2 separate regions of the Homo sapiens genome follow, and region 2 is linked to region 1. The links come from fine-mapping of genetic effects on gene expression. A gene starts in region 1. The other region holds a variant in brackets. All regions are shown on one strand. Distances are from middle to middle.

What was found. PIP is the estimated chance that this variant, and not a neighbour inherited with it, causes the effect.
Region 2: its variant is the best candidate, but not a certain one, in a credible set for the expression of NOS1 in skeletal muscle (GTEx, PIP 0.60).

The regions. Positions count from the first base shown.
Region 1 is chr12:117,359,944-117,362,742 of GRCh38, reverse strand. It overlaps NOS1 (nitric oxide synthase 1), which reads left to right and starts at 1,117. Exons shown (of 29, transcript NM_000620.5): 1 at 1,117-1,231. RefSeq lists promoters at 71-992, 1,159-1,231, 1,456-1,616, 1-1,616.
Region 2 is chr12:117,440,223-117,443,021 of GRCh38, reverse strand. No RefSeq gene overlaps it. Among named protein-coding and RNA genes, the nearest start is that of NOS1, 80 kb to the right of the region's middle. The variant A/G (reference allele first, on the strand shown) is at 1,503.

The DNA.
Region 1 (2,799 bases):
AAGTCACACACCCCCTCCCCTGCTGGATGTGCAAGACGATCTGAAAAGCATTTATTAGTGACAAAGGGGGTGGTGGTTTTCCTCTTTGCCTCTTCTCTGCGCAACTCGAAGCCTGAGTGGGTTTGCTCCGCTTGGCAAGGCTGGGGAGGAGGAAAAGATCAAATCACCCAGAGCCAGGTGCCAAGTGTGTGTGTGTGTGTGTTTGTGTGTGTGTATGTGCGCGTGTGCGCGTGCGCGTGTGTGTGTCCTCTCTTTCCTTGATTTTCCCCCGTTTTCCCAAGACTGTGTGAGCAGCAGCAACAGCAACGGGGAGATGCAAAATCCTTTGCAATCTGCCCAGGAAAAGACAGATTTTGAGTCGGGTTTATATGGTTACCCATATGTTAGGGCCCCTAAGAAAGGAAGGGAAGCTGCGTTCTCTGTGTCTTCCCTCCTCCAGCCCAGACCTTGGCCTCTCCACACCTGTGGGGCTCCCAGGCCACAGATGAACATGTGCCCTCCATCCTTCACTCTCCCCAGATGCCAGGCCTGAGTGTGGCTCCAGAAAAGACCAGAACCAGGCAACATTTCCTGAACAGGCTGCTTTTCTCCGTCTGTCCACCCGAGAGCCAAGGCCAGAACCCAGGCTGCAACCTCTGCGGGCTCCTGGGAGGGGCTCCCAGCACTGCCCAGCCTGGGAGGCTGTGTGTTCCACTGTCCCATTAAGGAATGCTATCCCAACACTGATGTAGAGGCAGAAATAACCATCCCTGCCTCCCATGGGGCCTTCTCTGCCCAAATAGACCTGCCCTGCCCTGCGTGGCTACTACATTCAGCCCTATCCAGGCTCCCAGAAATTGTCATTGTGTGTGTGTGTGTGTGTGTGTGTGTGTGTGTATGTGTGTGTGTGTGTGTGTGTGTGTGTTTCCTGATAGAAAAAAAAAAATGGAAATTAGGTTATATAAAAGATGTATGCTTTGGAGCCCAGAGCGGCTCTTTTAATGAGGGTTGCGACGTCTCCCTCCCCACACCCATAAACCAGTCGGGTTGGACGTCACTGCTAATTCGTTTCAGTGATGATAGGATAAAGGAGGGACATTAAGAAATAAATTCCCCCTCACGACCCTCGCTGAGCTCACGGCTCAGTCCCTACATATTTATGCCGCGTTTCCAGCCGCTGGGTGAGGAGCTACTTAGCGCCGCGGCTCCTCCGAGGGGCGGCCGGGCAGCGAGCAGCGGCCGAGCGGACGGGGTGAGCCAGGGGCGCGCGCGGGGCGCCCAGCACTGCGCCGGGGAAGCCCGCAGCCTCCGTCCCGAACTTGGGTTCGCTGAGGCTGAGGGAGGGGACGCAAGGGGAGGGAAGAAGAGAAGGGAGGAGTGGGGGCTAGGGGAGAGGGGGTGGGGAGGGATCTTGGAGGCACAAAGCGGAGGGGAAGGGGAGGGACGCGCGCGGCTCCTACCAGGAGGCGAGTGGGTGCAACCGGCGCCCTCCAGCCGCGCGGGGCGGCGGACTCGGAGGATTCAGAACCCGGAGCGCGGCGGCCGCGGGCGCCCGGGAGGAAGAGGAGGAGTACGAGGCGGGCGGGCGGGTGCGCAGCGCGAAGAGGCAGCCTCGGCGCTGCCCGGCTCGGCGTCAGGTGAGTTCCTGATCCAGGCGTCCCGCGCCCCTTCTCCGTCCCCAGGGCTCCCCGCTCCCGCCCGAGCCCCTGGTGTGCGCGGAAGGCTCGGGCTTTGCTGCGCGTCCCAACTTGGTTCGGGCGGCCTCATTTTCCTCCTAGCGGGCGGCCTCAGGCCGGGGGCTCCGGTCCGGGGGTCTACGCGCCCAGGCTCCAACTTTGCAAGACCCTAGTCGTTCCTCAGCCGCGCGCTTGGCTCCGAGCTGTGCGCTGGCGGTAATGGCGGAGCCCTTGGCACAGCTCGCTACCCTCCCGCGGGCAGCCCGGGCTGGGGGATGCCAGTCCCTGGGGACCGTTGTACCTGCCCAAGCTCAACTTTACGCCTTCCTCGGTGCCCGACTCTGCGGCCGAATCGCAACTGCGAGCCGCAGGTAATGGCGGAGTCTTTGGCACTGCCAGCTGTCCGCGGCTGGGGGCCCGAGGCTGGGAGGGCTCCGCTCCCGGAACATCGCTCCGGCCTGGCCTCCAACTTTGCGAGGAGCCTCCTTGCGCTCTCCTCCCGCGGTCATGGCGGGGCCGCCCGCACCTCTCACTTCTTCCGTCTGGGCGAGATTGGGGTGTAAGAGCGCCGTCTCCAAAACCTGGGAAAGTTGTGCTTCTCCCGCAAAGGAGGCTCTAGGGAGGCCGAGGGGCGCGTTCCGCCACGGTTCGGGGCTGGGCAGTGGAAGGAGCGCTCGATGAGGTTGCTTCCAGGTGGCCAGGGTTCGGAGCAGGGTCCCCGGGGGATCCAACTTCCAGGGCCACTCAGGGGCCTTGCGTCCGAGGTCCCGGAAGGGGCTCTCTCGGGACTGCGCCCCAGAGGACGCCAGACGCTCGCCCCCACCCCCAGGGCACTGTGACCAGAGAGCTCATGGCTCTCCAAGCTCCGCATCAGGCTGTCTGGGGTAGACATCTAGAGAGGAGAGGCTCTCACGGAGAAGGCAGCCGAGGAGGGCAGGAACCTTTCCAGTGACTCCCCTGGGTTCTGGTCCTAGATCGACCCTTTACTTGTTGCGTGACCTTCGGTAAGTCTCTTCATCTTTCCCAGCCTCAGTTTCTCATCTGTAAAATGGAGAAACTACCTTTTTCGTGGGGCTGTCATGAGGACCTTAAAAAATCATAAATGTGAATATGAAGTCAGGGTAAGCGTTCATAACGCAGGAAG
Region 2 (2,799 bases), 80 kb before region 1:
AGACGTGACTTTGCTCCTCCTTCACTTTCCACCATGATTTTGAGGCTTCCCCAGCCACGTGGAACTGTGAGTCCATTAAACCTCTTTCCTTTCTAAATTACCCAGTCTCGGGTATGTCTTTATGAGCAGTGTGAGAACAGACTAATACCCCGTCTCTAAAAAATAAAAATGAAATTCCAATCGTGAGACGGTAGACTTCACGAAGGCAGAAATTTTTATCAGTCTTGATCACTACTATATCCCCAGTGCCTAGGAGACAGCACATAGTAGGTGCTCAGGATATATTTGTTGAATGAAGAGACAAATGAATAAAATGGCAGGGCTACTTGTTGTCAAAGTCTCATGTGGTCAAAGCCAGAAAGAACATTCTGATCTGTGCATATATGAATATAAGAAATATTTGCCGACTGCTATGTGATGTGCTCTGTGCCACACACTGGAGGTATGATGGTGTAAACAAGACCCAGAAGGTAGAGCTCAGTCTGGTGGATACATCTGACAGATGAACAGGCAATTCTGGAGTCCCCTTTATAGCATCCTGCTGGAGTTATTTAATTGATGAGAAGCTCATTCGCTCACAAGGCAGCATACTCTGTGATTCTTATAAGAATATTCTTAGCCAGGCGTGGTGGCTTATGCCTGTATTCCCAGTACTTTGGGAGGCTGAGGCAGGTGGATCACCTGAGGTCAGGAGTTTGAGACCAGCCTGGCCAACATGGCAAAACCCCGTCTCTATGAAAAATACAAAAAAATTAGCCAGGCATGGTGGTGCATGCCTGTAATCCCAGCTACTCGGGAGGTTGAGGCTGGAGAATTGCTTGAACCTGGGAGACAGAGGTGGCAGTGAGCAGAGATCGTGCCACTGCACTCCAGCCTGGGCAACAGAGCGAGACTCCTTCTAAAAAAAATTATCTTTACTAGAGACAGCCACCACCACCAGGGTGCAGTCACCTGAGCTTAGAGCCCTTCCCTTGTCATCTCAAAGCCCCACTCTGTCCCCCAGGCACCTGCCCTATGCCTGGCTTGGGAGGGCCCCATGGCTAACAGCCCAGCCAGCTGCTTGCTCCCTTCTCATCTCTGCTTGACAAGCCAGGCTGGCTGAGTCACAGGCTCAGCTTCTCCCAACCCACGTGGGGTCTGGGTCTATGCCAGGGGGATGAGCGCCTGCCAGAGTGCCCGCAAGTCAGACCAAAAAGAGCCCATGAGCTTCACTGAGGATCAGACCTAAGAACATTCTGGAATCCCATGCTCTAGCTTGGAGCTCCCAGAGGGCCAGATGGCAGCAGACAGGTATGTAATTCTACCAGTGAGAAAACCAGGGCATCCAATGTGTTGGGGAGAACCTGCATTGCCTGAGAATAGTAATATAATAATTATTATTGTTATATGTTGTCATGGCTAATTATTGCTATTTATTGTCACGGTTAATTATTAAAGTGGACAGCCATGTCTGCATTGGTCACTGCTATATCCCCAATGCTTAGAAGGGTACCTGGCACATA[A/G]TAGGTGCTCAGTGAGTTCTTCTGTGGAATAAATGCGTGAACAACAACAATAATAGCTACTTCTATTTGCTGAGCACATAACACAAGGAATTAATATTTATTTTTGTGGGGGTTTTACATTTGTCTGTCTCCACCACAGGGGCATGAGTGACTGACTTTGGTTTTTTGGGGTTTTTTTTGTTTGTGTGTTTGTTTTTTGAGACGGAGTTTCACTCTTGTTGCCCAGGCTGGAGTGCAACGGCATGTTCTTGGCTCAGTGCAACCTCCACCTCTCAGGTTCAAGTGATTCTCCTGCCTCAGCCTCTTGAGTAGCTGGGATTACAGGTGCCCACCACCATGTCCGGCTAATTTTTTTGTATTTTTAGTAGAGATAGGGTTTCACCATCTTGGCCAGGCTGGTCTCGAGCTCCTGTCCTCAGGTGATCTGCCCGCCTCTGCCTCCCAAAGTGTGTGAGCCACCGCACCTGGCCAACTGACTGTTTTTACAAGAATATTGTTCCTGTAAAAATTATATCCCCAGCACAGTGACCCATGTCTCGTAGGTGCTCAATAAATGTTGTTGAATAAAAAGGCAGGTGCTGAGTATTATCTCATTTATTTTCACGCAGCCCAGGCAGGGTGGGAGCGCCCGGGAGCACATTTTTAGAAAGGAGAAATTGAGACTAGAGAGTAAAATGACTTCTGAAGGTCACGCAGTTTGTGAGACTCAAATCAGAGCCAGGATCTGAACCCTGTGCACTTGCGGAACCTGTGTACTCCTCACTGCTGAGTCCCGCTGCTGGCAGTAAAGACAAAGAACAGGGTTGGGGGCCTTTGGCAAGGGCTCCCAGGGCAGAGTGGGGCTACTTTGGTACTCCCTCATCCTGCCCTGTGAACCCAAGTCACAAAGCCTTTTCCATGTGATGTCCCATTTGGGGTTCACAGCAGCTGCAGCCAAGCCCAGAGAGGTGGAGTAACTTGCTCAAGGTCACACAGCAAGTTGGGCACAGGTTTTCTGACTCTATGTCCAGTGCTCTTTCTCCTAAACCCCAAACTGTGGCTCAAACCTGGAGCCCTAATATAAGCAGGAACACATGTGAGTCAGGGAAGAAGGCTTGTATTTTAGCAGTGGACTTTACTTTCCCTGGCAACCTGCCCCAACACACCTGGTGGCAAATCCACGTTCCGTACTTTGCTGTGTGACTTTGAAAACTGGCATCCCCTCTCTAAGCCTCAATTTCCTCATCTCAAAAATGGGGATGACATTATCTATATTGCAGGTGGCCATGAAAATCCCTGACTCAATGTCAGATACAGC